5 separate regions of the Homo sapiens genome follow, and all the other regions are reported to be linked to region 5. The links are microRNA targets in miRTarBase. Many come from high-throughput screens and were not tested one by one. Region 5 holds a microRNA gene; each other region holds the end of a gene's coding sequence.

Evidence for each region. The annotated mature microRNA hsa-miR-1297 reads UUCAAGUAAUUCAGGUG and lies in region 5 at 4,113-4,129, opposite strand. An mRNA with a match to its seed (bases 2 to 7 or 8) in the 3' UTR can be bound and repressed. Matches are read on the target gene's strand: a 7mer-m8 pairs with bases 2 to 8, a 7mer-A1 pairs with bases 2 to 7 and ends in A, and an 8mer does both.
Region 1: the mRNA of CREBZF is a reported target of hsa-miR-1297. Seed matches in the 3' UTR shown: 8mer at 2,568-2,575, 7mer-m8 at 2,971-2,977 and 7mer-m8 at 4,513-4,519.
Region 2: the mRNA of MFHAS1 is a reported target of hsa-miR-1297. Seed matches in the 3' UTR shown: 8mer at 2,782-2,789 and 8mer at 4,139-4,146.
Region 3: the mRNA of CD55 is a reported target of hsa-miR-1297. The part of its 3' UTR that is shown has no 7-base or 8-base seed match.
Region 4: miRTarBase lists ARMH4 as a target of hsa-miR-1297. Seed matches in the 3' UTR shown: 8mer at 4,829-4,836.

The regions. Positions count from the first base shown.
Region 1 is chr11:85,658,008-85,664,416 of GRCh38, reverse strand. It overlaps CREBZF (CREB/ATF bZIP transcription factor), which reads left to right. Exons shown (of 1, transcript NM_001039618.4): 1 at 1-6,409. The coding sequence ends at 606. Among named protein-coding and RNA genes, the nearest start is that of CREBZF, 3.9 kb to the left of the region's middle. RefSeq lists enhancers at 25-314, 425-664.
Region 2 is chr8:8,782,734-8,788,549 of GRCh38, reverse strand. MFHAS1 (multifunctional ROCO family signaling regulator 1) reads left to right here. Exons shown (of 3, transcript NM_004225.3): 3 at 2,495-5,196. The coding sequence ends at 2,528. Among named protein-coding and RNA genes, the nearest start is that of CLDN23, 84 kb to the right of the region's middle.
Region 3 is chr1:207,359,147-207,365,207 of GRCh38, reverse strand. CD55 (CD55 molecule (Cromer blood group)) reads right to left here. Exons shown (of 10, transcript NM_000574.5): 10 at 4,242-5,662. The coding sequence ends at 5,598. Among named protein-coding and RNA genes, the nearest start is that of CD55, 40 kb to the right of the region's middle.
Region 4 is chr14:57,999,462-58,005,870 of GRCh38, forward strand. It overlaps ARMH4 (armadillo like helical domain containing 4), which reads right to left. Exons shown (of 8, transcript NM_001001872.4): 7 at 5,587-5,721; 8 at 1,300-5,343. The coding sequence ends at 5,275. Among named protein-coding and RNA genes, the nearest start is that of SLC35F4, 140 kb to the left of the region's middle.
Region 5 is chr13:54,307,869-54,314,277 of GRCh38, forward strand. MIR1297 (microRNA 1297) reads right to left here and starts at 4,180; the gene lies at 4,104-4,180.

The sequences.
Region 1 (6,409 bases), not on the chromosome of region 5:
GCTGAAATGCAGCGCTTCTCTGACCTGCTGCAAAGGCTGTTAAACGGTATCGGAGGCTGCAGCAGCAGCAGTGACAGTGGCAGCGCCGAAAAGAGGCGGAGAAAGTCCCCAGGAGGAGGCGGCGGTGGCGGCAGCGGTAACGACAACAACCAGGCGGCGACAAAGAGTCCCCGGAAGGCGGCGGCGGCCGCTGCCCGCCTTAATCGACTGAAGAAGAAGGAGTACGTGATGGGGCTGGAGAGTCGAGTCCGGGGTCTGGCAGCCGAGAACCAGGAGCTGCGGGCCGAGAATCGGGAGCTGGGCAAACGCGTACAGGCACTGCAGGAGGAGAGTCGCTACCTACGGGCAGTCTTAGCCAACGAGACTGGACTGGCTCGCTTGCTGAGCCGGCTGAGCGGCGTGGGACTGCGGCTGACCACCTCGCTCTTCAGAGACTCGCCCGCCGGTGACCACGACTACGCTCTGCCGGTGGGAAAGCAGAAGCAGGACCTGCTGGAAGAGGACGACTCGGCGGGAGGAGTCTGTCTCCATGTGGACAAGGATAAGGTGTCGGTGGAGTTCTGCTCGGCGTGCGCCCGGAAGGCGTCGTCTTCTCTTAAAATGTAGGGTCAAGTAATCTGCTCTTTATCCGCGTTTACCCCTTTCAACTCCCTTACACCATGTCAAACTTACCTTAGTGGGACATCTTCACCGGACACATTTCAGAGGAGAGAAAAAAAGTAATATTGAATCTTAAAGTGTTTAGCTAAAAGCATGAATGTGACACAGTAACCAACTCCTAATGATAACATGTGACTATTAAATCTCTCTGACAGTTTCTTTTTTAGGTGATTTCCTTCCTGCCAGGCTCCGTTGTAGGGGTTACAGAACAGTCGTTCCCGCCTCACAACCTGGTAAGGATCCATCTCTTCCCGTAACGCTCATGCTCTGCTGCTTTGTCTACTTTAATGGGCAACATCTCAGTTTGTGTGTGTGTGATTTTTTTTTTTTTTTCTGTTTTGGAAGGTGGGAGGGAAATCTAATTTGGGCCCTGTCCACCCTGGAAACAGACTTGTGCTGGTCAAGAATGTATTTAAGATGCCTCTTCTGGTTGAAATAGCTATTAATGTGTCCCCTTATTCAGACTTGCGTGTACCTAGCTCTTCTGTCCCCAGTGTGGACATGGCCTTGGATGACATCGGTTCCAACTGTACACTGAAACCTGCTTATAGAGAGACAGTTTGGAGACAGTGAAACAGGTGAAGTTGAATGGAAGTTCCGAGTTGTACAAGGTGCAAATTGGAATTCCGATTTTAGGGCAACTTTTCAGAGGTTGACAGTTAAGTATTTGGGGCATGCACAAATGTGATAGTTATTTTGCTGGAGGTGACAGGTATCTCTTAAATATCAACAATGCCTTTTAGTTTTCAGTATGAGATATAGAAACAGTCTATAATGGAGTAACATTTTAATGTCTCACCATTAGAGAAGTTGGAAATTAACATACATATGAGACTCCTGCGTTTTAGTTAATTGGAGAATAAGAATGGCTAATGTTTCTTTGAGGACCAGCAGTGATTACCCTATCACTGAGATTGAATAAATTGTTGAACATCTTTATTTTTGTTGTATTAAAATTTTAGGTTAAATTTATATATGTATGATTAGATATTGAAGGTTGTGAAATGTGAATGAAAACGTGTAAAGTGAGGCTTCACAAAGAATCTTATTCTCTGTGTTTCAAAAGTATTTGTCCTATTTTAAAATAATTTTTTAAATTGAGTGGTTCTGGCCACTTAAATGACACGATTGGTACTATTTTCCTAAGGTGGGATTTATTCCCTTGAATCTATTAACCAGTTGTATAAATTGAATTATGGTGTCCTTCAGTGTAAGAGGCATTAAGAAATTCTTTGTGAAACATCACTGCTTGATAAAGTATATACGTATTTAGCATCCTTGTTTTTCTTTGTGCTAAAGTGGATACAGCTGTTGGGGCAGAAGAGACGGGACCAGCTGCTGGCCACATTTCCTGCTTTATTTTAAAAGGTAGTATAAGAAATGAGGAAAAAGAGGTAATATCAGGGCTTCTGCTGTTTTTTATTTTTAACATGTTCATAATTAAAAAGTATTTTCCAGCAGTCCAAAGATGTAAGTTATCTTACACATAAAATGTTTTATTTTGTTATTTGGTTATGAAAATGGAATCCTTGTTCTTGCACAACTGTAAATGTTTTGTTGCTAGATAATACGATTTGAGACCTGAATTGGTCTTTGGTTTCCAGTGCATCACAGCATATTTTGTAAAATCATCTACTACTGCACTTGAGCATGAATGGGTAGTAGCCAAACTCACAAATTGGAGTGATGAACCTGCTTATACCTAAGGGCAGGAGCAAGCCCCTCACAATGCAGCTGCATGGGTTTTTAGTGCCTACTGAATTATATATATATATACATATATATATATATATATAAACCAAAAGTAGTTGGAAAGATTATTTGAAATGACTAATTTGTGCTATCTTTATGAAATATGTTAAATGTAGCTTTTTTGAAACAGAAGCCTTGAATTGAAATTTAACTAATACTTGAACATTTTGTATATATTTCTTTGTATATAATTTTGTGCAGTACCAATGACAAAAATATGGTGTCATAATAAAACCAGGTTTGTTGATCTTTTAGTTATGGGCTCAAAGAATTTATTCATCTCTAACATGATATTGGAAAATAATGGATGAAAATAGGAAAAATGATTGTTAATGCTGACTGTGGGTCTTAAAAGGTTCTGGAAAGCAGTAAGTTCATTTTTCTAAAAACTATAACATTCTGTTGGAGTATTTTCTTCCTTACGTCAATACTTTTCCTGCATTATTTGAAATTGTGGGCTGGGGAGAAACAGTAGTCAAAGCTTTCTGAATTGAGATACTTTGAAATTCCAAGTGTAGATTTTTAGAATGTCATTTTATAAATGGCAGTTTTTGGAATTACTTGATAAGAACTTTTGAAAATGGAAGGATTAGTATGGCCTATTTTTAAAGCTGCTTTGTTAGGTTCCTTATGTTTTATTAACTGTCTTTTCTCAGTTTCCATTTCATTTTTTTTTTTCTAGTTTTGGTGACTTAGTGATTTTGTCATTTTTTACATCAACTTCATGGTCTTGTTTTTACATGGTAATTGCATGTACTTAGGATCTATCTAATAGGGGCTTTAAATAAATTTGGTCATATTTATGTGTAAGCACATTTTACTGTAAATGTTTGGGTTTCTGAATTTAAACAGATCTGTTTATTTCAGTATGTAGTAAACAATATCTTAAAGTGTCCGATTCACTACTTGTTAATTAAAAAAGTTATGATTAATGTGAAACTGTTGTCTTACTATTTTTAGAAAATTGTGTTCTGGATGATTAGCACATGGATAAAGGAGATTTCTGGAATATAAAATGGATTGTTTTTGAAATTTCTAGGTTTGGCTCTATTTACTGTAATGGTTGAAAACAATTTAGTATTTGGGTGACCCTTTTGTTTTTCTTCTAAATGTGCCTCTGGTAAAATACAGAACTAGACTAAAGATGTAGCTTTTTAATATTTGTCTTTTGATGGTGGCAGGAGTTCATACATTAATTGAACTAACACATCATATTTTGACCTACTATTTCTATCATATTGACTTACTGTTTCTGCACTTCTTTGACCAGACTTATCTTAAAAAGTCCACTTTTGTTAAAATGTAGTCACACCTCTGATATAATCCAACAAGAAGTGTTCAAAATATTTTAAATATTTGTGCATTTTATAATCACTAAATTAATCTCTCTCTCTTCTCTTTGAACAGCTTAGCAGTGTCTGCAAAAACGAATCTTTTCCTACAACCTGTTAACTGACTGGACTGTTGGTAACAAAGTAATTGTGAGAACCATGTCGGTCAAAAATTTGGCATCTGCTGAAAAAAATGAATGCCATTTTCAAGTTCCCAAATTACTTCTATACTGATTTCACTTTCCAGAAATGGAGATATGAAAAGATTCTCTGGAATCCTTGAAAGACTTAATAGAGATACATGAGACTAAGTTAATCTTGGAACAAAATTATACTTTTTTTGTCTTTCATGGGAGTGATACTCAGTTATTGCATATCTTTACAAAATTGTAACCTTTGGAGAATTACAGTATTTCATCAAGAAATTAGAGTTTTTACATAATCAAGAGCATATTCTATGGAATTAACATTTAGTGGACTAGAATTACATAAGCAGGCCATCAGTGATCACAAGGCATATGAGTTTGTATTTATTTCCTGGAACATGAGAGCTAATTTGGAGTACAGACAGACACCCTGCTGAGTAGAATATAAAAGTTAATGTAAAGTTCTGAACTATAAAGAGTAGTCCTTTTAAATAGATGCATTGATTTGTATATCTTTGAAAAAGTTGATTATGATTAAATGTGTGGGTAGTTAATTACAATTTAGGGTAACAACCAGGATGTATGGATTCTTGAGGTTTTGGCTTCTTGAGCTTTCTCTTGAGTACTTGATACTGTTTTCTGAATATTTTGAGGTTTCTAATTAATGGTATGCTAGTTTCTACTGTTTTATATAAAAATTTATCTAGTGTTGTATAAGGACTTTAGTATTGTGGATGATGGGAGTGGCTTTTTGTGGCATATGGTTGTTTTAATTGAAATATTTTTTCAGTTTATTACAAGTGTGAAAAAACACTCAAAACTCTGGATTGTTTTATTTCATTTTTGTTGGATTATGTTAATACATTCCTTCACGTGGTTTAGATTGAGTCATTTTATCTCACTTACTTGGAAATGTGCAGCTGATAGAAGAGGGATTGGGTAGGAGATTGGCTTTTACTTCATAATAAATATACAGTTGGTTATTGTATTATTCAAAACTTATTAAATCCATTCAGTTTCTTACCATTTTAAGTGTATTCAGTGCCTGTGAAGCCAGGCAGCAGAGTATTCCCACTGGCTTAAAACTTAGGCGCTGATGCTCCTACAGTACAGCTAGTTATAATTCCAGAACCAAAGGCACCAACATTATTTGGTGACCTTAACTACTACTTTGATAGAACAGACTGGGTAATTCACTGATAATGAGTCATTACCTTTTTAATATGTGATTATCTAGTTCAGCATTTTGAATGTGTAGTTTAAGGTCTGATTTAGTAAAATTTTAAAGCTAAATAATCTGATGACTCTTGAAAGTTTAATTGGTAGTATGACATTTATGTTTTTTTCCCCCAGACTCACAGCCAATACAAAGTTTTGAGACTCCTAAATGTTAATATTTTTGCTGTTTTTCTGAGCTGTTTTTTTATTTACTTACCACCTAAGCTGCGGATCAAAAAGGGAATTCTTCCATTAGAAATTTGTAGTGTTGTGTGGCCAGCACAGTATTTTTCAGATTTGAATTTCAGTACCTCTGTGTAGCCTCAGTACTCTCAACACCAGTCACTCTTTATTGTCTTAAAATATTCCATACTTTTTGTTGACCCAAAATTGTTGAAAATATTTTGCTCAGTTTTCACAATGAACTAATTGAAAAGTGTAGTTACTGTGTTGTAAACATTTGTGTAGTTCTGTTAATACACTGATTTGAATTTTATTTATCTCAACTTCCTTTAGCGTCTGCCTCCAAATTTTGTCTTTGCTGTATACCCACTGAGATCAATTCCCTAGACCCCTCTGGCTCTTAGTGTACTATAATTTGGGCTTTATAAAATATATTGTCTTAATTTAAATAGAATGTGAGCCCTCTTTTTTTTTTTTTAAGCCAAATAACTACACAAAGTAAATTATAAAAGATTTAAATAGTTTGTCTACAGTGACTAGACTGAAATATAAAAATTGATTGAGGGTAGTTTACTTCAGGTGTTAGCTACAAATGACTAAATGTCCTTAAATAATGCAGATATCTGCCCTCTGAACAAAAATTTTGGCAAAGTAAATTTGTAGCAACAGACTTAACATGATTTATTGCTTATGTTGCCCATTTCTGCTAATGGAAAAGATAATTTAAAAATATGTGGCAGAGGACAGATATTAGAAATACTTTTTGGTTACAGAAACCATTGTAAACTCATCCTCATTTATAAATGGTATTATGCTAGGGAGTAATTGGACTAGGAATGTTTAAAGATAAGTAAGGAAACAATGTGTGCTCAATCGTCAAAGAACTTAGTTATATCATTGGGCTTTGAATTATCTAAGTTGATTACATAATTCTATATTCTTAAGGAGTCTTAACTCGGTACTTGGGTTAACGCCAGAAATTACTTTTAATTCATTGTTTTTTTCACTGGGATGAGTAGAACTCTGCTTTTAGTAAAAGTGACAGAATATAGGTAAAATGGATGATTTGGGATCAGAGCTTTTCATCTTGATATTTTAGCCTGTAAAATAAACAGCTAT
Region 2 (5,816 bases), not on the chromosome of region 5:
GCACCACCACGCCTGGCTAATTTTTGCATTTTTAGTAGAGACAGGGTTTTGCCATGTTGGCCAGGCTGGTCTCAAACTCCTGACCTCAGGTGATCTGCCTGCCTCAGCCTTCCAAAGCAGTGGGATTACAGGCATGAGCTGCCGCACCTGGCTCTCCTCAGTACTTTTTATATACCTCTTTTGGTAATGATCTCATAGTATCTTGGCTACTTTTTACCTGTGGCTTTTTCATCACATCTGACCCATCATTCATTCAACAGATCTTTGTTGAGTAATTATCCTCTAGTAGGCATTGGGCCGGGTGTTGAGGATACATAAAGAACTAAATCAAATCCTGCCCTCCAGAACCTAATAGCCTCTTTGGAGAAGATAGGAATCAAAGCCATAACCAGGCAAACTTATCAGAGTCTAATTATAATTGAAACATGGTACCTGCCATGATAGGTGTATGAACAGAGTCTTGTAAGCACAGGGAAGAAAGAACTCTACCAGGAAGAATCAGGAAAAGTTCCAGGAAGTCGTACTTGAGATGGATCTTGAAGAAGGAGGACAAGTTTATGGAGCTAGAGAGGTGGGGAGAAACAGAGAAGGTTGGTGATTTTGATGGTTGTTTTCTCTAAGATCCCAAATGTGGAAAAAGGCATATAGATGTGAAACAATTTTCAAGCTGGTTGAACAGTGGGATTTTCCGTCTAGGTGTCCTTGATTAGGTATTCTTGTGTTTCTCAGTCTTACGTGTAGCCCGGGGAGCAGACTGTCTGCATTTCTGAAGGTCTGTCAGATTCAGTGGGAAAATGTTTATGTAACACATCTCCCACGTGAACCCAAAACTCACACCACCAAAGTTAGCTGCTAGGTTGAGACGTGTGTTTTTACACTGGCGTCCTCCTTACAGTTAGATTGATTATATTATTAGTTGAATTTGAGGCAGTTTTCAAAACCCTCTCTTCTGGGAGTTTACTATATTAATAGGCATTCAAAAAATTCTCGTGGCAGAGTGCCTTAGAAATGTGAAACTCTTTCCTAGGGCTCCAAATATCCAACTTCTCTTTGAGCTTTGGAGTCAGATCACCCTAGTGAAAGGCCTGGCTCTGTCACTCGCTAGTATGCACCCTTGGGGAAGTTATTTCATCTTTTGGAACCTTAGTTCCCTTCCTAGTAAGATGCTGAGGCCGGGCGCAGTGGCTCACACCTGTAATCCCAGTACTTTGGGAGGCCAAGGTGGGCGGATCATGAGGTCAGGAGATCAAGATCATCCTGGCTAACATGGTGAAACCCCATCTCTACTAAAAATGCAAAAAATTAGCCGCGTGTGGTGGCGGGCACATGTAGTCCTAGCTACTCGGGAGGCTGAGGCAGGAGAATGGCATGAACCCAGGAGGCGGAGCTTGCAGTGAGCCGAGATTGCGCCACTGCACTCCAGCCTGGGCAACAGAGCGAGACTCTGTCTCAAAAAAAAAAAAATAATAATAATACTGAGTAAGATGGAGCTTACATGGTGGGATTATTAGGAGTTGAAGATAAATAATGCACTAGAGTGAACAACCTAATTCCTGGCATGTAGTTAGTAAATGAGAGGTTTTTGGTTTTTTTGTTTTGTTTTGTTTTGTTTTGCTTTGCTTTGCTTTGTTTTGGTGATGTCGTTATTATCATGCTTGAATGAGCCCATGACTGAATCTTGTATGGACTGGAGAAGTGTTTAGGCAGATGCTGAATTATCAGTGTCCATGAAATCAGCGTCTCTCCTAATGAGAGATGGGGGATTGGAGGAAACGAATCGTAACTCCTTTTTCCTTTCCTTTCAATGTCTTTGTATATTTTATTAAAAGTTGCTAAAAAAAAAAAACCACTTTCAAAAACATCCCATCACATGTCATTGTAGGGAAGCAAAAATGAGAAAAACACTTGATATTTTTTCCTCTAACCATTTTATCGGAACTGAATCCCGCTTTATTTGCTGAGGCTGCAGTAGTTTATTCATTCTATATTGATCAGACTCCAGATTTGCGTGGACAACTTAACTTATAACATTTTAAGTAAAATCATGCATTTTAGGCAGACAGACATCTCACTTTTTAGTATATATTCCTTCTTCTAGAGGATTATTTGGTGTGTGTCTGCGTGTGACCGTGTGTGTTTATTGAAAGGAAACAGTTCCGTGTTTAGAGTTTTGGGTTGTTAGTTAGAGGTCTAGTTAAGCTATAAAATTACAGTGGAATAAGTGATGACAGCCAGTTAGTACAGTTCCCTCTTATAGCTGAACTGAGCTTAACACACCAACAGAAATGTTTGGCAAATAGACTGCTAAAATGACTCTTTCCTTTGTGGGGACATAAGTTGCCTGACATTTACATGTTTATAATGAGTCCTGGAAGTAGAAATGAAAATATGTGCAGAAAATAGATTTCTATCATCACTTCCTTTTCTTATTGAGGGTAGCATTGTCCAGTACGTTTTTGTCATCTCTGTGCTTTCTTGTTGTCCACCCATACAGGAAGAATGTTGGTGAAAAGCACAGAAACCAGTGACGTTTGTGGCTGTGGAATTTCCATGGAGAAAAGAGAGCATCTGAACACCTGGACCATCTTTTGCACCTGGCAGACCCTCTGCACTCACCCCAGCGTGTTCTGTGAACTTGAGTGACAACGCGTGCTTGCAGGGTGCTTTTTGGACGACTGGGGAAGAGGTGGGGAGGGGGTGGTGGGGGGAAGCATGGACGAGAACATGGAGCAAATGTTTTACAACCTGAACCTCAGAACTGTGATCCTCCAAGGAGCGCGCTACTTGAAGAAAAGAAAAAAAAAAAAAAAAAGTCGAATGGCTTCTCAGGGATTTTGTTTTCCGTGCACATATAAGCCATAGTTACAGTACAGGTGGCAGTATTTAGAGCACTCAGATTTCAGTTCTGTTAAATGTGAAAGAGGGATCGACTGACGTTCATTGCTGTTCCATAACTAGTGTAAAATATGTATATGTTTATCTTTATTTTTATAATATGCAAATACATTTAAATTTATACAGTTTGAAGCTTCTAGCGTTAGTTCACACTGGGTGCAATATTCTGCATGAGAACTGTGCCAAGATGGGGCTGATTTCTTATTTTAGTATAAGACTTTTTTGTTTTTTCTTTATTCTTTAATCCTCTTCACATTAAAAAAAAAATCTCTCTGTTAGCCCATGGATTAAGTGTTGGTTCATAGAGATTGCCAATAATCAGAAAGAACCTTAAATGTGCATTTAAGACAGTGTCCCTTCCCTTCTTTTCAATGAAGGTCCCTGCCTATATAAATCATCTGGCACGCTGGTGGGAAATCCTTTGCTCTTCCAACGTGTTATTAGTGCTGGGCAGAGATGGGGCACACTCAGGGGCCAAAGAGGACAAAAAGTCCATGCAAAACTTGAGTCTTTTAATGGCTTAAGATAATCAGGAGTCAGTTCTGAATCTTACAAAGTGCTCTGCTTAATAAGTACCTTACTTAGCAGAGCACTTTGCAAACATATTACTTATTAGCAGAGCTCTTTGTAGACCTTCCACATCTGGCTGTCAGATCTTAAGGTTGTGAATTTAGGCTCCAGTTACATTCACTGGAGAGCATAATCCCACACGGGTTATTTATAAATACAGAGCCTCTGATTGGACGGTCTCCTGCCAAGAACTAGTAATACCCTTGTTTTAAAATCTTCACAAGGTAAAACTTAAAAAGCCAACCAAACAAATTGCTCTCCATTCTACTTTTAATTGGGCCAAACAGCATATGCTACAGTAGTAACATGTTTTTCGGAGAGTGTAAAAAACTCTGTTTACATTTGCCTCCTCCGTGGGTTGATCGAAAATGTATAAAACTGACTGCTTCTCGCCAGCCTCAGACAAGAAGAGTGAGTTGCTGGTACTCGCTACTCTTTTACTTCTTTTGTAAAGTATTGACTCTTGGAAGGCTACAGTATACAAAGTCTCAACATGTTTTTTAAAAGAAATAAGGAGCAAGCGACTGCCCTGCTAGAAATCACAAACCGATTTTTGTAGAATATTTTGTGCCCCAGGCATTAATTTCACTGACTCCAGAACCTGCAGTTCAGAGAATGATTTCTTATGATGATAAAAATCGAATGGGATCAGACGATGTTTGCATTTTTTTAATACTTGAATAGGACACCTCAAGTTTGAGATTTCATTTTCTTTTAGAACACAGTCACAAGATTAATCTGGTGAATCCTTTTGTCACAGTTCTCGTGTGTGTGTGCGCGTCTCCGTGTGTGTGTGTGTGCATGTGTGTAAAACTGAATGGTCACATTTAATTGCTTTTTGGACCATTGAATAGTTGGGAAGTAAGAATTTTTTAATTGGCATGAGACGGTTCCTCAACTGTTAAATTAACCAACTTTGACCTGTCTTTAGAAAAAGGCTTATTTGTATGATTTTGGGCTAACTCCCCGGGGACCATATTAAATGACAAAAATGCTCCTTTGGGTGACACACCCTACAAAGTATTTGCTGTTACGAACATAAACGCCCACATTCTTAATATCTAATATTTTTGACCAGTGATGTTTTATGCTGTCATCTGAACCCTAGAGAAGCAGTGTCAGAGGAAACCTTGGTGTCACATGTGTCTTAGCAAAAGGGTTACCATGATCGAGGGTCATGTGACCAAAAGATGCTCCAGAGAAGCTTGAGAATTTGTTTCAAGTTGGGAGGAGGGTTGGAGATACAAAAATCACTCTGCTCTACAGGACTCTTCAGCTGTCTATGCAAGAAATTCCGTTTTCTCTTTCAGCACCTGGAAAGACACAGCAGCCCACCGAGGCGATAGGTGATTCACTAAGCACAAGAGGAATGTTTTCTAAGCAAGGCGTCCCTTGCCTCTCAAACAAATGCCCTCCAAGTTTGTTAGGGTTTCTATTCCTGCAACTTGTGGTATCAAAACCACTTCCTGGAATTGTCAAAGCACTGCCAAAATAAATGTTTTTCCCCCTTCTAAGAAAAAAAAAATGACAGTGCTCATATTTGACACTTGTGTATTGGACTCTCTTTTGAATGAATAAAAAGGAAAAGGGGTTTGGTGTAATTCCTGATGGGGTGCGTGTTGTTTTTCATGCCATGGTTTGTGAATTTTAATTGTGGTTTCCCATTTCGTTGTTGTAACTGGGCAGAAATTAAAAAAGAAAAATCAATAAAAATACAAAGAAATGGTTAAACAGTTGTATTCCCAGAACTTAATTATTTCAGATTTTGTTCATTTGTTTTTACTTTTAATTCTATCAGTTAAGGAATGACTTTTATAGTTTTAGTCCTTAGTGGTACTGTTGGAGCTGTGGGAGGTGGGTGGTGGTAGCTCTCATCTGTTTGGTCTCCGAAGAGAAAACTAAAGAATCCCTGTTTTAAAACTGCCTCTGTTTTCAGGCTGAGGATATAACTTGAAGATCAGCTCTCTTAAATCAGAATCTTTTTTTTTTTTTCAATGATCCACTATATTCCTAAGTCACAGCTGTTGAATTTATGGTAGCTTTGGAAGTTCCCCTGATCTTTCTTTCAAAGGCTCTTAGCAGAAGTCCTGCTACATACTGCCTCAGGGTGCCCTATTTGCAAACTGGAAGAGCAGGCCCCTCAGGTACCCATCAGAGGATTTAGTACTCCATATTGTTTAAATAAAGGCAAAGAGAAGATAAGGAAGGACCAAAGCCAGGGTGTTAACGTGGTGAATCCATAACGGGTCTGCAGCAACCTCAATTCTTGCCTCCTCAGAAGAAAGAATTCAAGCGAGGGGCATAAGACAGCAGGAGAGACGGAGGCAAGTTTTAGGGCAGGAGGGAAAGTT
Region 3 (6,061 bases), not on the chromosome of region 5:
CAATGTTTTGGTGAATATCCTTGTACTGTATATTTTCATATTATTGGAGGTATATCTTCAGAGTTCATTTCTAGATGTGAGACTGGTGGATCAAAGGGTAAATGCGTATGTGTGGGGTTTTTTTTAGATATTGGAAAATTCCCCTATAAAATGGCCGTATCAGTTTGCATTCCCACCAATAATATATAAAAACATCTGATTTTCCACAGCCACACCAATAGGAAGTCTGGTCACATGAAAACCACATTCTCAACATAACTAGAAGACAAAGCACCTACTTCAAATTGCCTATAAGAAAACAAACAAAACAAAAACAACCCAGGAGTCCTTCACACTGCTCCTAGAAGCCTCTGTGGTGAGCAAGGGCAGTCTGTGGAAAGACTTCAATGAAAGTGAAAAAAGCTGAGCTAGCAAAGTCCTCAAATTGCTCCAAAACCATTGCCAGAAAGTAAGAGTCTGCCGTAAAAATGAAAATGCTGAAAAGGTGTCCTTGTAGACCAGAGCACTAACTACAAGCACTACCTTCAGGAAAGGGCCATAAACATAATGTGATCTGAGTTGATAGCCTTTGAAAGGTGTAGTTCCTAAAAGAGGAAAAGGTCAAAAGGAAGGGGAGCCATCCTTTGGTGATAGGATGGTAGAAAAAAAAAGTGAAATAAAATAAGAAGTTGTGGAGTGTTTTGAGACAAAACAAAAATTAGAAGGAATGCAGCTCTCCCCTCCACAGCTTCCATTATAGGTCAGCCTCTGAGGTCACAGCAAGTTGGAGTGTGCTAGAGAGTGGTCCTGGATGAACAAACAGAAAATATCCATCACAGTAGGAGACTTATAAATAGGAAGAAAGTGGAGAGTTGATGAACATACTGCAGTAACTAAACTAGAAAGCGGAAAAGATTATATTGAGCAAGAAAATATGCCTGAATTAGTGATTTAAGAAGGTTCCATGGAGATGAGTGACTCAGGTAGAGTGAAGGAGGTCATTAGAAATCAAAAGGTCAATAAAACCAGAGGCACAGATGTTATAAGGAGTCATCCTTGTCAATGTGAAATAATTATGGATAATACCAGATTGTAGGATGGTTGGGAGACAGTGAGCCAGTTCCAAATCCCTCAACAGACAGGGGTGGGTGACCAGAAAGTAGGGGGATTGCAATAACAAGGGGTGGAAGAGGATCATACAGTGGGTTTGAATGTGCAAACAAATCTCTGATAGGCAAAAATATCTCATTGCACTTTCATTCCACATAGTACCAGGCATAGAGGTGAAGTTGGTGCCCTATTTTATTCATCATTGCTATTTGCAGACCAGTCCTCCTTCCTTTCCACAAAACCCTTTCCTTCGAGTCACGTATCATCAGAATATAGCACCTGCTATCTTCTTGTTTGCAATCATCTTCAGATGTACAAACCACTCATTTCGTGAAGATTTTAGCCCCTGACTCAGTATCACTCTCTAACATGAATCCCCATGCTTCTTGGTGATTTCAGTATCAATTAAGATGTTCCATGGCCTCCTCCGCACCAATACTTTTGTCCACCATTTTATCTCAACTTCTCACAACCATAGTTCTGTTTAAACCCTTGTATCACCAAAATCTAGAAGGCTTCAGTGTTAGTTTAGATAATGTCAACCACAATAACGTAACACACCAATCCCCAAAATGTTAGAACTCAAACATTACAGAAGTTTATTTCTTCTTCACATGAAATCTAAAGTGGGTGTTCTTGATCAGCAGACAGCTCTCCTCAAAGCAATGACTCAAGCTCCTTCCTTTCTGTGGTTCTGTTATCTTTAGCACATGACTTACTAGGTTACTACAGTCACTTTCATCAACTCAGTGTAGGGAAGGAGGCAAGGAGGATCACATATGGGGATGTTTTAGGGCCAGACCCAGAAATGCTACACATCTCTGATCACGTTCCTTTGGCCAGAACTCAGTCCTATGTCTACACTTAACTGCAAGAGTGCCAGGAAATGTGTCTAACTTTGTGCCCAAAATGAAGGGGAAGTGTATTTGTAGACAGCTTTGTCCTCTGGTTGCCAATTCTGTTTTACCCTCAATTGACGCATTCTTATTTCTCACTACTGCATATTACCATTCTAGTTCATCCTAAATAGTACCCCAAGTCTAACAATGACATGACCCCATTAAGGTCTACAAAATATTGATCCTGTTACTCATTGTTTCTTACCACTCATATGTCTTCACTTCCCTTCTCACATAGCTTAAATTCTATGGTCCATCATTTTAATCACTCCCTTGTGCACATGCTCAACTCACGTCATCAAATTCACCTGGGAACACCCAATCATGATTAAATCCAAGCAACTGGTTTTTTCTGAGACTGTATCTAGAAAGCTAAATATGACTGCAGAAAAACTCAGAACGAAGCTTGATGATTGCACTCTAAATTCATGAGCACTCACCTCAACTGGGTCTTTAGCATTGCCTGCTAATTGACTAAATGTCTCTAGTCCTTTCCTTCTCTGCCTGTCTTCAAACATAACACCTCCTCATGTGTCATCATTTTTATGATGACCTTGATGTATATGTCCCTGAGAAAACAGAAGAAATGTGAAATCAATTTCCAAAAGCTGCCACCATGGGCATCTCCAACCCACCTGCAACAGTTCCCTCCTAGTATGTACTGAAGCCCTGCATGCTTCCACCTAAGGCAATCTCTCCACCTGTGCACTAAAAAGAGCTAAAACTTACTGAGCACTTACTACATGGCTGGCACTATTTTAAGCTCTACGTGTATTAACTTAATTCTCATTGCAAATCCTATGAGGCTGGTACTGATTTTAGGCCCACTTTACACATAGATAACTAAGGTACACTGACAAGGAACATCCCTTGAGTCCTGCAGCTGATAAATGCCAGGGCTCCGATTTGTCTCCAGAATCCATGCTTTTCACCAAGGAGAATTATAGGAAAAACATTTGACATTTTAGTAAATTACCCTACCAGAGTGAATGGACAGTTACTCTTTTTAAAGAGATGTGTGTGGGGGTTGAGATGGAAGACATGACAAAGGAACAAGGAAAACACCTCCGCCACCTCTTAACAATGAGTCATATGGATGAAAATAAACCAGCCACCACTGGAATAGGCTGCAAAGGAAGCAGTACCTTCAGGGAAGGGGCTGTTTTTAGTTTCGGTAAGGAGGAAGAAAACACTCAGGATGGGTGGGAGGAAAATGAGGCATTTGCACATTGGACATTAACCAAAGCAAACAGGGCTAGGGTGTGACAAGACAAAAATTATTCATGTTCAAGTATTCCCAGAAAAGTGACAGTGATAGGGGGCTAAATATTATAAAACTCAAATTTCTACAGTGAGCAGGTATAACTTGCTGTAACAAATACATCAGTCTCAAGAGGAAAAGCAATACAACCTTTGCAATCAAAGTAAAATCTCACAGGAGAGGTTATCTTAAGCAAAAATAAAACCACTCAACCTCATAACTACAGGATACACGGTAAATATAAATCCTACAAGAAAATATCTTTACCCTCACAAGCCTACTGTTTATATTTTCTTCAAGGTAAATGACTGTTTAATAGTATTTCCGCTTTTACCCTTATCTAAATAGCAAGTTCTTGCTATTAGAAACCTATTTTATGCTCACTGATTCTAATTAGATCGAGCAGAATAAAAAGTCTAGAGCTTACAAATTTTCACTTCTACACAGAACACATGACATAGTCTAGCCCTTGCTCTAAGCCTTTCCTACTTCGACCATCCTGCCACTATAATCTCATCTATTACTGCTTTCTCAATCAGCTTTCTGCCTTGAATATCTCCCTCCCTGCCACTCAACTGCTTAACAAACAGCTTAAGCACCCACCATATTCGGGGCTGTAACACTCGTAACTTTATCTTCTTTCTCTCAATAAGTATATATTTTGGTCTTCCTGTGGCAAACTATAAGCAACTTGAGGGCAGACACTTGCAGTTATCTTGGTAAGCTCACATTTTAGCATATGACAACTTGCACATAGTAGGCACTCAGCTTTTTTTCTGAATAGCTGAGCCAGTGTTATTGCTATCCCTGGAAGCACTGGGTTATTACAGAATAGGCAGAGCGGGCCCTCATATTTAACAAATGAATGAATGAATAGGTGGATGGATATGTGCCTACTCTTAGAACTTCTAGGAAAGTTCAAAGAATTTCCTAATATTAGAAACTATTAGGAAATTAGAAACTATCACAACTGCTAGTTGTGATAACTGTGGTTAAGGAGGAAAAAAAGTTTTATTTTAAGAAATACACATTAAAGTCTTTACAGTGAAATGCCATGAACGTATGAAATTTAAAGTACTTCAACAACAAAACAGATGAAGCAAAATGACAAAATAAACATTGCCATAATAAATCTAGTTATATTCTATACAACTAGTACATCTTAGTCTAGTCTAACACTTAAAATGTAATTGGCAAGATGACAAGAATATGGTAAAAACCTAGAAATTAATCAGATTGCCTTCAGGTAAATCAGTAACAAGTAATATAGATACTCTAATAGGAAAGGATATGACATGCTTGAGAAAGTACAATATAATTTTAAAGTAGCTGAAAATTATTCACACTAGGACAACCAAGGCATGGCATTCTGAACTGCTTGTAGGAAGCAGGTAGGGAATTTCTTATTTAGAAATAAAGTAGTCACGTTTAAGAATAAATTTCACATACTACATGATACCAAAAAATGGGATCATTTATTTCTATTTAGGAAAAATACATTTTTCTTCACATATCTTCTTCAACTTTTCTTGTTTTACATGTAAAATCAGAATGTTCACTGTCATAAATAAATATAAATAAATATTACAAAAGAATAAGATTTACAAATTTGACTATGGACATCTCGATTCAGAAATAATATATAATCTTTTCTTATGTTAATATTGTAGTATCTCTGGATACTTTTAAAGACATTAAGTCAAAGAAGACACCTTTCACAGGCTTTTTCCAAACTCTATTTGTGCAACAAAGGAAGATTCAGTCTTTCATTCTATATTCCTCCCTTATCACCATCAACACCCCTGGTTCACCAGCATGTTTTACCTTTAAAATATTTTGCCAACCCGAAGGAAAGATGAAAATGCCTTACAGCCAAAGATTACTTTATAATGTGGTTCATCTCTCTTTAGCAATTTTGCTTAGAAGAGACTGAATTGGGTTTTTATTTGCTTTTGATATCCAAATAATGTTTTTCATTTTTTATTTCCTTTATAAGTGGAAATAACATTACAGATCTTGTGGAAAAAAATCACTTTCCTTCTCTTTTCCTCGTGATCCCATTCTAAATACGAACAAATCTCTATGCTTTCTTACACTTTTAGGAAAGGAATCACTCTCAATTCTGCAAGTTGTTCTATTTTCAAGAGGTGTAGGTGTGCTAAGAATGTGATTCCAGGACTGCCTTTTTTCTCCTTGCTCTGTTGACATTCCTAACACATCTTAAAGACAATGAAAGCATCCTAAATGAAGAGCACAATTGCATTTATTTTATCCAATATGCAGATAAGTCTAAGAAACTAGGAACAGTCTGTATACTTGTGTGTATTTTCTTCTTAACTCTTCTTTGGCTAAGTCAGCAAGCCCATGGTTACTAGCGTCCCAAGCAAACCTGTCAACGTGAAACACGTGTGCCCTGAAAATTAAAAAAAAAAAAAAAAAAAAGTTAAAATCAAAATGATTTTATTTACTAGTGATAAATATAAATTTTTAGTTACTATGTGATAAATCACCAAAAAGAATCAGTTAATTTGGGGTGCAAAACAAAAAAAATAATGAGTAATAGAATATGGACAAGATTCTACAGGTGGGGTTTATCAGCTACAGCAACAACTAAAATGTGACGTGGAGTTTTTAGTTTCTCGAGTTGAACAGTGGCTAAGCTAGAATGAATTAAGGTACCTTCAGATTAAAAGTCAATGAATTCCTAAGTGTGGGAGATGTTAAAAAAATATAAAAATAAATAAAAACCCCTGAATACTACTACATGTGGAAGAGAAGATTAAGAGATGAAGACACTCAGAAAGTTTTACAG
Region 4 (6,409 bases), not on the chromosome of region 5:
TCCAGCACTTTCTAATGTTTTGTGCCATTTTTATATTTGCCTTGCATTATGATTTTCCTCCATCTTCTTCTACCATATTTCTTTGCTTGAAACCACACCTTCACATACCATAAAGGGAAGAGATTTTTTTTCAGTTGTGTTCCTGCCTCTTCAAATTCCTCTGTGGTCATAAAAAAGCCTGTCTTGCCAAAATGTCACGTAGCTATAACCTTGCGCCAAATAGTACATCTTGTTTCCAAAAGCTGTTTTTTTGGCAGCTGGTAGGAACATGGATTATTCATATCTGCAGAAATCACAATCCCTGTGGAGGATTTGATTCTTCTCCCCCAGGTTGTGGCTGTGATTGGAAATAAGGTGTTTCATTTGGACTTCTACAGGAAGAAGACACCTGGAGGCAGACACAGAAGGAAGAGCGAGGTATTCAGTATGCTCCATGCACTCTATGTAATTTTCGGATACCTATATAAAATGTTTTGGCTTTTAACGCTTAGCATTTGGGGAAAAAAATCATAAAATGAAAAACCACTTTTAATTGACTCTTCAAAAATTACTTTAAATGTGTTCTAAAACTTGGCTTTAAAATTTCTTCATACAGTTTTGACCTATGTTAAGAGATACAGGTACTTTAAGAAAGTGTTTCTGGAAAATTGTATTTGAGGCAGTTTATCAGCTGAAGGCACAGCTAAGGCATCGCTAAGGGAATCTGTTACCCTGGGATACTAATTAACTCCAAATATTGCATATAAATTAAGCTAGCAGCTACTGAAAGAAACAGCTTATGGGAAAGAAAAAACTAAAGAGGTTGGAAAGAAAAGCACTGTCTTTTCTAATTAGAGAAAAAGACATCAGGGGTATGGGAGAAACCCTTTTCTCTCCATCCCAGCCTTCTATTCTTTTTCTAGTAGCTTCCATCCTTTTCTCTTTCCTTGTTTTCCTTTCTCCTTTCTCCACAGCAGGTGTGATTTATTGGATAGCATGACCAGGGAAAGTGTCTCTTCCTACAGGGGACTGCTCTCCTTGTCTCTTTTGTGTGTGTGTGTGTGTGTGTGTGTGTGTGTTTGTGTGTGTGTGTGTTAAGAACATTTAATGTGAGATCTACCCTCTTAACAAAAATTTTTGTTTTGTTTTGTTTTTTGTTTTTGTTTTTGTTTTTGAGACAGAGTCTCACTTTGTCGCCAGGCTGGAGTGCAGTGGCGCAATCTTGGCTCATGGCAACCTCCACCTCCCGGGTTCAAGCGATTCTCCTGACTCAGCCTCCCGAGTAGGTGGGACTACAGGCGCGCTACCAGGCCCAATTAATTTTTTGTATTTTTAGTAGAGATGGGGTTTCACCATGTTAGCCAGGATGGTTTCTATCTCCTGACCTCATGATCTGCCCACCTTGGCCTCCCAAAGTGCTGGGATTACAGGCGTGAGCCACCACACCCGGCCCTCTTAACAAATTTTTAACTGCACAGTACGATATTGTTAACTATAGGCACTATGTTATACAGCAGAGCTCTAGAACTTATTCATCTTGCATAACTGAAACATAATTAATCAACATCTCCCCACCTTTAACTTTGCCCAGCCCGTGGCAAGCACCATTTTGCCTCTGCCCTTATGAGTTTGATTATTTTGGATACCTCAAAGAAGTGCAATCATGCATTTGTCCTTCTGTCACTAGTTTATTTCACTTAGCATAATGTTCTCCATGTATATCCATATTGTCACAATGACAGAATTTCCTTATTTCCTATGGCTGAATAATATTCTACTGTATGTATATACCACATTTTCTTTATCCATTCATCTATTGATAGATATTTGCATATCTATCAATGCAATTTCCATATCTTGGCTATTGTGAATAATACTTATAAGCTTATTGTGAATAATATGCTTATAAGCATAAGCAATGAACACAGGCGTACAGATACTTCTTCAAGATCCTGATTTCTATTCTTTTGGATATATGCCCAGAAGTGGGATAGTTGGATTATATAGTAGTTCTATCTTAATTTTTTGAGGAATCTTCATACTGTTTTCCACAGTGGCTATCCATTTTACATTCCCACCCACAGTATACAAGGATTCCAATTTCTCCACATCCTCAGAAACAATTGTTATATTTTGTTTTATTGAATAATAGCCATCCCAATAGGTGTGAGGTGGTATCTCATTGTGACTTTAAATGACCTTGTCTCTATCATAAGGAAGTGGTTCTCTAGATAGATCCCTCCTAGCTGTGTTCCCAAGCTTGCTGGGGCATGAATACCCCAAGCTCCTTCCCTGGAGATTCTAACTCATCAGGTCTGGGGCAAGGCCTTGAGATCTGTATGTTTCACAAGTGTCCCAGGTGATTTTTATGAGCCTGCAAATTCTGGAAACACTGCCTCTCCCTCCGAGAAGAAGACCTAGTTCCTGCCCCTGCGGTGGGATGCTGGCAGTTCTGGCTGGGTAAACTCAGTCCAGTGGGGATGGTGTTCACAACTGAAGCTGCAGGAATCAGCCCTCCTTTCCAGACAGCTTTATTTGTTTCACTGTTAAATGTTTTAAGCCTAGTTGTTTGAATAAAAAGTTGACTTTCTATTTTAATTGTGCAAATATAAGCATACTTGTCACTTATTTTGGGTAAACCTACAAGTGCCTGATTTACTACTTCTCAACTGGACCACTATATAACCACTGGCCAGCACTTCCATCTCGTAGCAGCATCTCTAATCCCAGGTTTTGTTTAAAATATGACAACCTTTTCTGATCCTCTTAATAATCTAAGCCAACCACTGAAAATCATTATTCCACAGCCACCAGCAGCAAGGAAAATGGCCAAAATAAACATGTCATTTGTACCATCCACCGACCTTCCACTCAATCCAGATGTTTAAATGGGTTTGTACAGAAATGTACTCTAAGTATAATCTTTTCCTTTAAGAAATCATGTGTCCCAAAAAGGACCACAGAGATACTGTGTTAAGCCAAAATTCACATACATGTCATCCTCACGGACCTCTGAGAAATGAAAATATGGGTCTGTTATTTGGGAATTTATTACACTACAGTTTGAAGATTCAACCTATTAGCCATGGTTTAGTTAAGACTATAGATTGAGTAGCCCAAGGCAATAATGGCCACTAGTATCACCCATGTGCTACTCAGTTAAGTGGCCTACGACGTATTCTCAACAAATAGTTTGTCAAGAATACAAAGACAGTAATGCCACACCATGCTCACTTACTCCCAACCTTAGAAACACTTACAGCAAAGGGCTGCTCTTAGAAAAGGAAAACATCCCTTATGCAATATCAGGATGTCTCTACTCGTGAAATTACAAATCACTTCTGAGTGTCATGATTCTGAATTCTATTTTTAAAATCTGACCTTGAGCTAATTTGCCAGTTGCTAACTTCTATTTGACTGTACAGAGCTTTTCACTTCTCTTGATCAGTTTCACATATTTGCTTACATCTCTTGGCAAAAAGAGTTAAAATTATTTGATGAAAATGTTCTTGTGAGCCAGACATTATTCAAAAACGGATTCTAGGAAGGTTTATTAGTTCCATAGAGGTGATACTCAAATGTATGACTGTAAAGGAAATAACTGATAACTGAGATGGGGAAGGAAAGAACTTGTGTGTGAGTAAGAGAGAAATTAGAAAGGCATCATTCATTTAACAAAGATGGAAATTCACATCAAACGTTCCTTGACCAGGCAGCTATTCCCTGCTATTCCCTTAGAACCTTTGTTTTAAAGAAGGACCCTGAAATGTCACTGCTTCCACCAAAGTCTATGAAAAGGTTACTGAACTGAAGATAAGGGTGCATGGCTGGGTCCAAGTGGGTTCTCACGCTGATTCTCTCTGGGTACAACTTTGGAAAATCATTTCACTTCTCTGCTTCAGTTCCATCTTCAGTCAAATGGGAGAATAAAAACATATGTCCTACCTCACATAGTAGCTCTGAGGAATAACTGTGCAACTTTTCTTGAACATAGTAGACAACTTCTAATAAACACCAACAAGTACTCCACAGTGACAGCACTATTAATAAATAACTTTTATTCTTCCATGGCAATGAGCCAAGCCTTTACCCCAAAACTCAACTACAAATCCTCAATCCCTAGATTCAAATAGCGCATTGGAATATCCTATTTTGTATAGGGCAGGGAATTACATTCCAAGGGAGATGAGAAATGATTGAACATATTTCAATATCCTCATAGCGGGGTGCCCTGAGAGAGGCTGGTTTCCCATGAGCTCTGTTGTTCACCAGGACTCTGGCCACTGGGCAGACAAACGATAGAATGTCTATTTTTCTAATAAAGCCATATAAGGACCAATGGTAGCCCACCTTTTCCATGGTGGAGTCCACAGATGTGGAAATACAACACTCTGAATTAGTCACATTAGCAGCCACATAAGCATAGAACCAAATGGCAGACAGAAATGCTCTGAGAGCTTACCTACCCTCATCTCATTCTTGAATTCTTCTTCATTTTTTCTCGGCAAAATCAACTAGCACACAAAAAGAATATCTCTTAATCATAAACATGTATGACATGTATGATTGAGTCTGTTGGACTCAATCACACTATTTAAGACAGCAAACGTACATTAAGACTAAGAGTCAGTTTAATGTATTATTTCTAGTGCATTTTTTTCCTCGCCAAGAATAAAACGGAAGGTGAGAATAATAAAACTAGGAGACTGAAGTACATAATGCAAAATACATACAAATCTACATATAATCCTAATATGCTGAGAGAGCTTCTTAATGAAAATGATTTCATTCTGAGTTACTGCTAGTTTGATGCAAATGCAGTATGTACCATGGCCCACAACCCTGTGGTTTCAAGTAGGTAGAGTATATCTTGAGAAGTTATTCTTTGTTAAGATTTATATCTCAGAGTCAAGCATGCCTTGGTGGCAACAATCATTATTCTCAATGCAGGTAATTCAAACCAAGGAAAAGACACTGTGGAAAACTACAAAATATTTACTCTGCCTAATGTAGCAACTCCTACTGAAAAACATATATGTTGCATATTTATGAGTTGTAGCCCACGGTTGTGGAAAATTCACTACAGAATAAAACCAAATACTGCATGATACGTTTAGTATACAACATGCCATTTCTGCTCAGTACAAGAAAAATCTACTACCCAGCACCCAGCAGACACTAGGACTAACGGCCTGATAGCAGCAATGTGGCAGGTTGTTCTTTTTTTTTTTCTGCTCCAAAATAAAAATTAGAATAGTAGCATCGTTGAATATCCCAATTAAAACCCAGTCCAATTCAAAATTCATCTTCAGAGCTGTCGGCTAAGAGCATTACTCGATCTTGCATGCTGTTGAATTCTCTCTGCTAGAGAAAGAAAACAGAAAAGCATTAAACTCTTTCTGCCACAGAGCAAAGCTGAGAAACAGGCCCACTTTAAAAGACATGCTAACAAACGAAGCCAAGGCAGGAGCTACAGCAGCTAATCCAGACCACTGGGCACGTCAATACCACCCAAGCATCATTAAACCCCGTGTGCTTTATTAAGTAAATTAGATAAGCAAAGAATGTTCTGAAACTGATTAGGTTTTGCTGTTGTTGGTTCCATACCTTTCTTTTATGCCTTTTGAAGCCATTTCTCCTTCGGCGATTCATAACCTTAATGCTGTAGAGGGCTCCCAAGATGAACAAGGCTCCAGCTATCCCAACCCCTACAGGCACCAGCATCCCAGACATGTAACCAGCCTGCATAGAAAAGGAAACACACATTAGGATGCTAAACAGAGCGCGCCGCCCTGGGTTTCTCATTTCTGCTGGATGGCAGCAGGTTTTTAGACACTTTGAATTCTCCTGTCTGCTTTGTTGTAAGATAAAACTAAGCCTAAAATACAGTAACTTTTTAGGGAGAAGGCAACAGAGAGAGAGACAGGCCTATTTTGGGGATATTTCAAATACATAGAAGTATTGAAATAAATCAGCCAGACCTAGTGGCACCTCCAGCCACTAGCTTATGCACATTTGTCAACCTCAGGTTCTGATGACAGAAATATAATTTGTATTAAAGATGGATGAAGTAAGCCTCTGAGAATGCCAGGACTACTAAAATGCTATAAATTGGAAATATCAGCCAGAGTCAAGCTTAAAGGAGGTCAAAGTGTCCTCTGGAATAGTGTGTTTGCTGGGGGCTAAAAGGAGGGCCTTGACAGTGGTGGTCCTCTCTTCTCCCTCTCTGTCTGTCTTGGCTGCATTACAGTAAGAAAAGAAAGATGAAAATGCTTGTGGGTAAAAGGGGAGGGCTTCTGAAAACAAGGAAAAAAAAGGCCTGCAAAGGCAAGAGGAGGAATGTTAGATGTTGGAGCAAAGGCAGAAAAGACAAGGACAAGGGGAGAGTGTGCACACAAAATGGATGGACTGATTTCTGTGAATGGAATCA
Region 5 (6,409 bases):
AGACTATTATTCTAAGTGAAGTAATTCAGCAATGGAAAACCAAACATCAATGTTCTCACTGATATGTGGGAGCTAAACTATGAGGACACAAAGGCATAAGAATGATACAATGGCCTTTGGGGACTTGGAGGGAAGAGCGGAACAGGGGCAAGGGATAAAAGACTGCAAATATGGCCGGGCGTGGTAGCTCATACCTGTAATCCCAGCACTTTGGGAGGCCGAGGCAGATGGATCATGAGGTCAGGAGATCAAGACCATCCTGGCCAACATGGTGAAACCCCATCTCTACTAAAAATACAAAAATTAGCTGGGCATGGTGGTGGGTACCCATAATCCCAGCTACTTGGAAGGCTGAGGTGGGAGAATCGCTTGAACCTGGGAGGCTGAGATTGCAGTGAACTGAGATCACGCCACTGCACTCCAGCCTGAGGACAGAGCGAGACTCTGTCTCAAAAAAAAAAAAAAAAAAAAGACTGCAAATATGGTGCAGTGTTTACTGCTTGGGCGATGGGTGCACCAAAACCTCACAAATCACCCCTAAAGAACTTACTCGTGTAACCAAATACCATCTGTAACACAATAACTTCTAGAGTTTTTTTTTAAATTTAAATTAAAAAAAGAACGTAAGGAGAAGAAAGATGTTTCAGGCAGATGTAATAAGGCGAGGAAAGGCACAAAAGCTAAAATATATATGTGGGGGGGAAATGAAGAAAAATATAGAGGGATGTACCTTTACATTTTATGATATAGCTTGGTTATTGGTAGCTTTGAATTTGATGTTAAACAAGAAATGGCTTGAATCTAATCTGGCTACCTATGAAAAGCTATAAAAATAATAATAACAAAAAGCATTCCTTTCTTCACAGCCCTGGATGGTGTGTTATTTTGTTTTGTTTAGCCAAAGGGGAAAATCAAGCACAATTGAATTTAACAAGTCTTTATTAAGAACTTACAAGGGGCAGCACTCTATTAAGCTTATAGAACACATAAGCAGAAGGAATAAGACTAACACAGTGACACAGCAGCACCAGGCCAAAAGAGAAAGGGGGTCCAGGGAGGAGGCCCTGCATGATTATGCCTGGTCAAGTGTTCACTGTCATCTAGTCTGCAGCTTTGGTAGTAAACAGCAAAAACAATACAGTTATGTCAATATATTATTTTCTTATTGTATAAGTACATATATACTTGTGCATGTATTTGTGTTACATTTTATCTCATCCATTATATTTGGTGCCTCTAGAGCTGTGAATTAAACTCCGTAAGTATTACAGTGTTAAGGAACAGTAAGTTACCCAGGTTGACTCTATCAGGATTTGCTATTTCAGTGTTGATACTCAGAAAGGTACCCAGATGAGTGTTACTCATACTTTCCAAACATTTCTGTGTAACAGATTCATTCAAGGTTCTCACCTGAATACCCTGGGTTTTCATTTAGCATACCTTTAGCAGAGGACTCTGGAGAAACTGCTGAAGGTAGTGTGTAGACCATAATATAAGAACACAATTATATAAACTCTGTGTAGTAGGCAAACCCCCATTATTTTGTAATGAATAATCTATCCATTCAGGAAAATAAAATAAATAAAATAAAATGGTTTATTTATATTATTGCAAGTTAAAAAGGTTAACGTTAGTGATTTCTATCTATAATTCTTCTTTTATCTTACACATTATTTCTAAGATGATAAATAAGTTTCATCTTATGTGCCACTAATAATGAGTTCTGGGAGTACTGGCTTGTGAATATTTCTAGGGCTAATCAAGTCGACACTCTAGAGGGAAAAACCTTATGGTCAATAAGCAATGACTGCAATAAATGGCAGAAGTGGAAGTATGCAGTAGGACCAAAGTCTGTGCATACTCACTTTCCTGAGATGTGCTTTACATTGCTTTACTTTTAGCATATTTCTTTTTTTGTTTTCTGAAATTTGGTGACTTATTTTTTTCTTTTTTTCAGGGTTGATGTTTTCTTATTTTTAAAAACATATTTATTTAAATTGACATATTAAATTTTATATATTTATCATGTACAACATAACACTTTGAAGTATGTATACATTGTGGAATGGTTAAATTGAGCTAATAAACATATGCATTACCTTACACAGCTATTTTGTGTGTGTAGTGAGAATACTTAAAATCTACTCTCAGCAATCTTCAAGAATACAATTCATTGTCACCATATTGTGCAACAGGTCTCTTGAACTTATTCCTCTCATTTAACTAAATTTATTTTTTCTTTGCTTAGAAACTTGTTTACCCACCACTTGGACTAATTGTTCAAATCTTCCCTGATGGGGACACAGCCATCTGCATGCAGACTGCCTCCCACCAAGTCCAAGAGCCCCTTCTCTCGCAAAAGGGCTCTCTCTCCACTCACTCTAACACATCAGAGCTGTTCTGTCCCTTCTCTGTTTTTTAAAATTCTTAGCTATCTTGAAGTCACCTTTTTTCCCTTCTCCTCTCCCTGTAATAATTCTAGTTCCATCTAAGGACTATATCAAGTAGTAGTTTCTGGCTTGTTTCCCCAGTGGAATGGTGAATTATTCAGAATTATTATTATTCAGAATTATTTACATGTAAAACAGCATAATGATGTATTTCTAATCTCTACTGTGCCAACACAGTAGAGAGTAAACAGCAAGCTATAAAAAATTGGAAGACAAAGATAACTAAATATATTTTATTTTGGTAATAATGCACTAAAATGTGTAACTTTTTGTTGTTTCCCATTTGAAAACAGTTTACATCAGTACTGGAATGTAATTTGGTAAGCATTAAAAACTCAGTTTATAAGTAATTCTTTAATATTAAACAGTGTTTTTTAGTATCAATTCTACCATAGTATAAAATTATATATTATATGTTTCATATTAGTGTGTATCTGTAGGTATACACATTATACCACACACACATAAATACACTGCAATAAGGAATACTGGATGGAAATTGTGATTATAATAATGCCAGAAATGTTAACCCAACTCTTGCTAAATGCTGTTACATATTAAAGAAGAGAAATGAGAGAAAGAAGGAGAGAAAGAGGAAAGGAAGGAGAGAGGGAGGGAGGCAGGGAGAAAGGAAAGAGGATATCCAAAAAGTTAACTAAGTTTATCCCTAGGTCTCCAAAATCAACATTAAGTGCCTAGTCACATAGTGCCTCATGCGTGTCCGTGTGAAAAGACCACCAAACAGGCTTTGTGTGAGCAACAAGGCTGTTTATTTCACCTGGGTGCAGGCAGGCTGAGTCTGAAAAGAGAGTCAGCAAAGGGTGGTGGGATTATCGTTGGTTCTTATAAGTTTTGGGATAGGCGGTGGAGTTAAGAGCAATGTTTTGGGGGCGGGGGTGGATCTCACAAAGTGCATCCTCAAGGATAAGGAGAATTACAAAGAAACTTTGTAAGGGTGGGGGAGATTAGGGTGGGGCAGAAACCAACCACAATGGTGGAATGTCATCAGTTAAGGCTATTTTCACTTCTGTGGATCTTCAGTTGCTTCAGGCCATCTGGATATATACGTGCGGGTCACTGGGGATATGATGGCTTAGCTTGGGCTCAGAGGCCTGACACATAGAAGTTTAGTTTGATACCTATAAAATCTGTGTTCTCTTTAACCTTTTGAAACACTTGCTAATGAATCACAAAGATAAAAGTCTTTCAAATGTATACACTGAAAACCTATGTAACACTGACAAAATGAAAGTTCTTTAGTCTCTCCCCACCTTTAAATCGAAGAAGTCACTGAGTGAGGATTTAGACTTAAAAGCAATTGTGACTTGCCTATGACTTGCTTGTTATGATGTCACCTTTACCCAAGATTTACTTTGGAACCTATGATTCATTCTGGCATTTTTACATGTCTTTTAATTGTCAAAGTTCAGACTTGGGTTTTTGGTATCTCTAAACTTATCATCGCTAAGAGTCCTTTGTAATAGTCTTTCAAAATTAATGAATCAAATGCTGGTGAGCACATGAATTTCTGAAGCATATATTTTTTTAAAGCCAGGCTTTAAAAGTCAAGGGTGATAAGAAAGAGGATCAAGTAAGTGCTACAGCCAATAATCCAACTCACTCTTCAGTGCTTCTGAATTTAAAATTAGAAGTGTTTCACTACACCTGAATTACTTGAATTACTTTGGCTCAGATAAGTAATTCTAATAGATCAACCCTAGAGATAAACACCTAACTTTAAAATTAGACTCACTGAAATGTCTGCTCTCCTCAAAATATCATTTTACAGGTTGAAGATGTTGTCCTATGAAAATCTAAGATGAGAAACACATTATGTATGATACATTACATGCAACATATAAACTTGACTCACTTCTCAACATTTCACATTTTTGTGTATTTATACAGTTAAAATACAATTCAATGGACTCCTCATTATACTTGTATAACTCTAAAGGGAAATAGTAGAAATAACAGTTATTGTAGTGTTATGCTACTGAAAAAAACTAGTTAGCTTAGGTCAAAGGATAGAAAAATGGAATGGTAAGCAATTACTGAATCATTAAAAGAAAGGAAGAGCTAGATTCCATGAAGCAAGAGATCAAAGGAATAAAACTCAAGCAGAGGTAAATTCATTGCTAGCTCTATTCCCCTTAATGCAATAAAACAAATGAAGAATCAGTTAAGTAGAGAGTACTTTCCATTATATCCAACATACTAATCATTTCTACCCTTCAATGGCTTGTCAAATTTCCATAAGTAAAAAGCATTATTAATATAGAAGTACAGTACATGACCATATTTTTCCTTAGGGATCATGCAATTTCAGAAATTATTAGAGATGGGAGTTAACATTCCTACCTACTCCAGCAAATACCCTTGGGTAGAATGCAAAAGTAAAAAGTGATGTAAATAAACATGGAAGAGCAAATCAGATAAACATGGGGTAAAATGGATATGTAGAGATACTCTACTATAATTTATCAAATCTGTTGTTAATCTATTGAAAAATCTGGGTATGTCATCTTCAAATTGACTACAAAACATGATTGTATTTTCCAAATGGTTAGAAGTAGACACTATTGAAAGGTGACAACGTGTTAGCAGCCCTGGCTCGCTCTTGGCGCTTCCTACGCCTTAACATCCACTCTGGCTGCGCTCCAGGAGCCCTTCAGCCCGCCGCTGCACCATGTGGGCCCCTCTCTGGGGCTGGCCAAGGCCAGAGCCGGCTCCCTCTGTTCCTGGGGAGGTGTGGAGGGAAAGGTGCAGGCGGGAGCCAGGGCTGCATGTGGTGCTCGCGGGCCAACACAGGTTCCCGGTGGGTGCAGGCTCCACGAGCCCCACTCTCAGTGCGTCCTGCCGGTGCCTGCTGGGCTAGATCAGGGAATGAGCTTGCTCTGGGCTGCCAGAGTGCCCGGGCTAGGTGCAGAAAAGTCCTGCAGTGAGTGACAGTGAGAGGTGAAGCCAGCTGGGCTTCTGGAACAGGTAGGGACTTGGAGAACTTTTGTGTCTAGCTAAAAAATTGTAAATGCACCTATCAGCGCTCTGTGTCTAGCTAATGGAGTGGGGACTTGGAGAACTTTTGTGTCTAGGTAAAGGATTGTAAATGCACCAATCAGCACACTCTATCTAGCTAAAGGTTTGTAAACGCACCAATCAGCACTCTGTGTCTAGCTAATCAGGTGGGGGCATGGAGAACTTTTGTGACTAGCTAAAGGACTGAAAACGCACCAATGAGCACTCTGTGTTTAGCTAAAGGTTTGTAAATGCACCAATCAGCTCTCTGTAAAATGGAACAATCAGCAGGATGCGGGTGGGGCCAGATAAGGGTGAATACGGGGAGTAAGAGCCAGCCCCTCCCCCCCCCTCCCCGGCTATTAAGACCCACATCGCAAAGGGGTGAGGCACCCCCCACCATACGGGGAGTAAAAGCCAGCCCCTCTCCCATCCTGGTTATTACGACCCACGGTGGACTCACAGCCTGTTTACGATATTGGGAGTAATATCATCTCCCCCTCTGGAAATTATGAACTATTTCACAGACGAGTGTACACCCTCCGTGTACAGAGGGTGTACACCCGTCTGTATTGGGAGTAATATCATCCTCTTCCTCCCTGAATATTCAGAACAGTATCACAGGAGTGTTTCTACTCCCTGCGATATTGGGTGTCATATCCTCCTCTCCCACGTGGAAATTAGAAACAATATCAGTGGGGGCGTGTACACCGTCTGTGATATTTAAAGTAATATCATCCTCTTCCCTCCAGGATCATGGGAACAATATCCCTGGGGTGTGTACACTTTCTGCGATATATGTAGTAATATCACCCCCTCCGCCTTGGAATATTATTAAGGACCATCTCACACGGGGATGTACACTTCCTGCGATATTGGGAGTAATATCAACCTCTCCGCCTCTGAATATTAGGAACAATATCGCAGGGTGGGTGTACACCTCC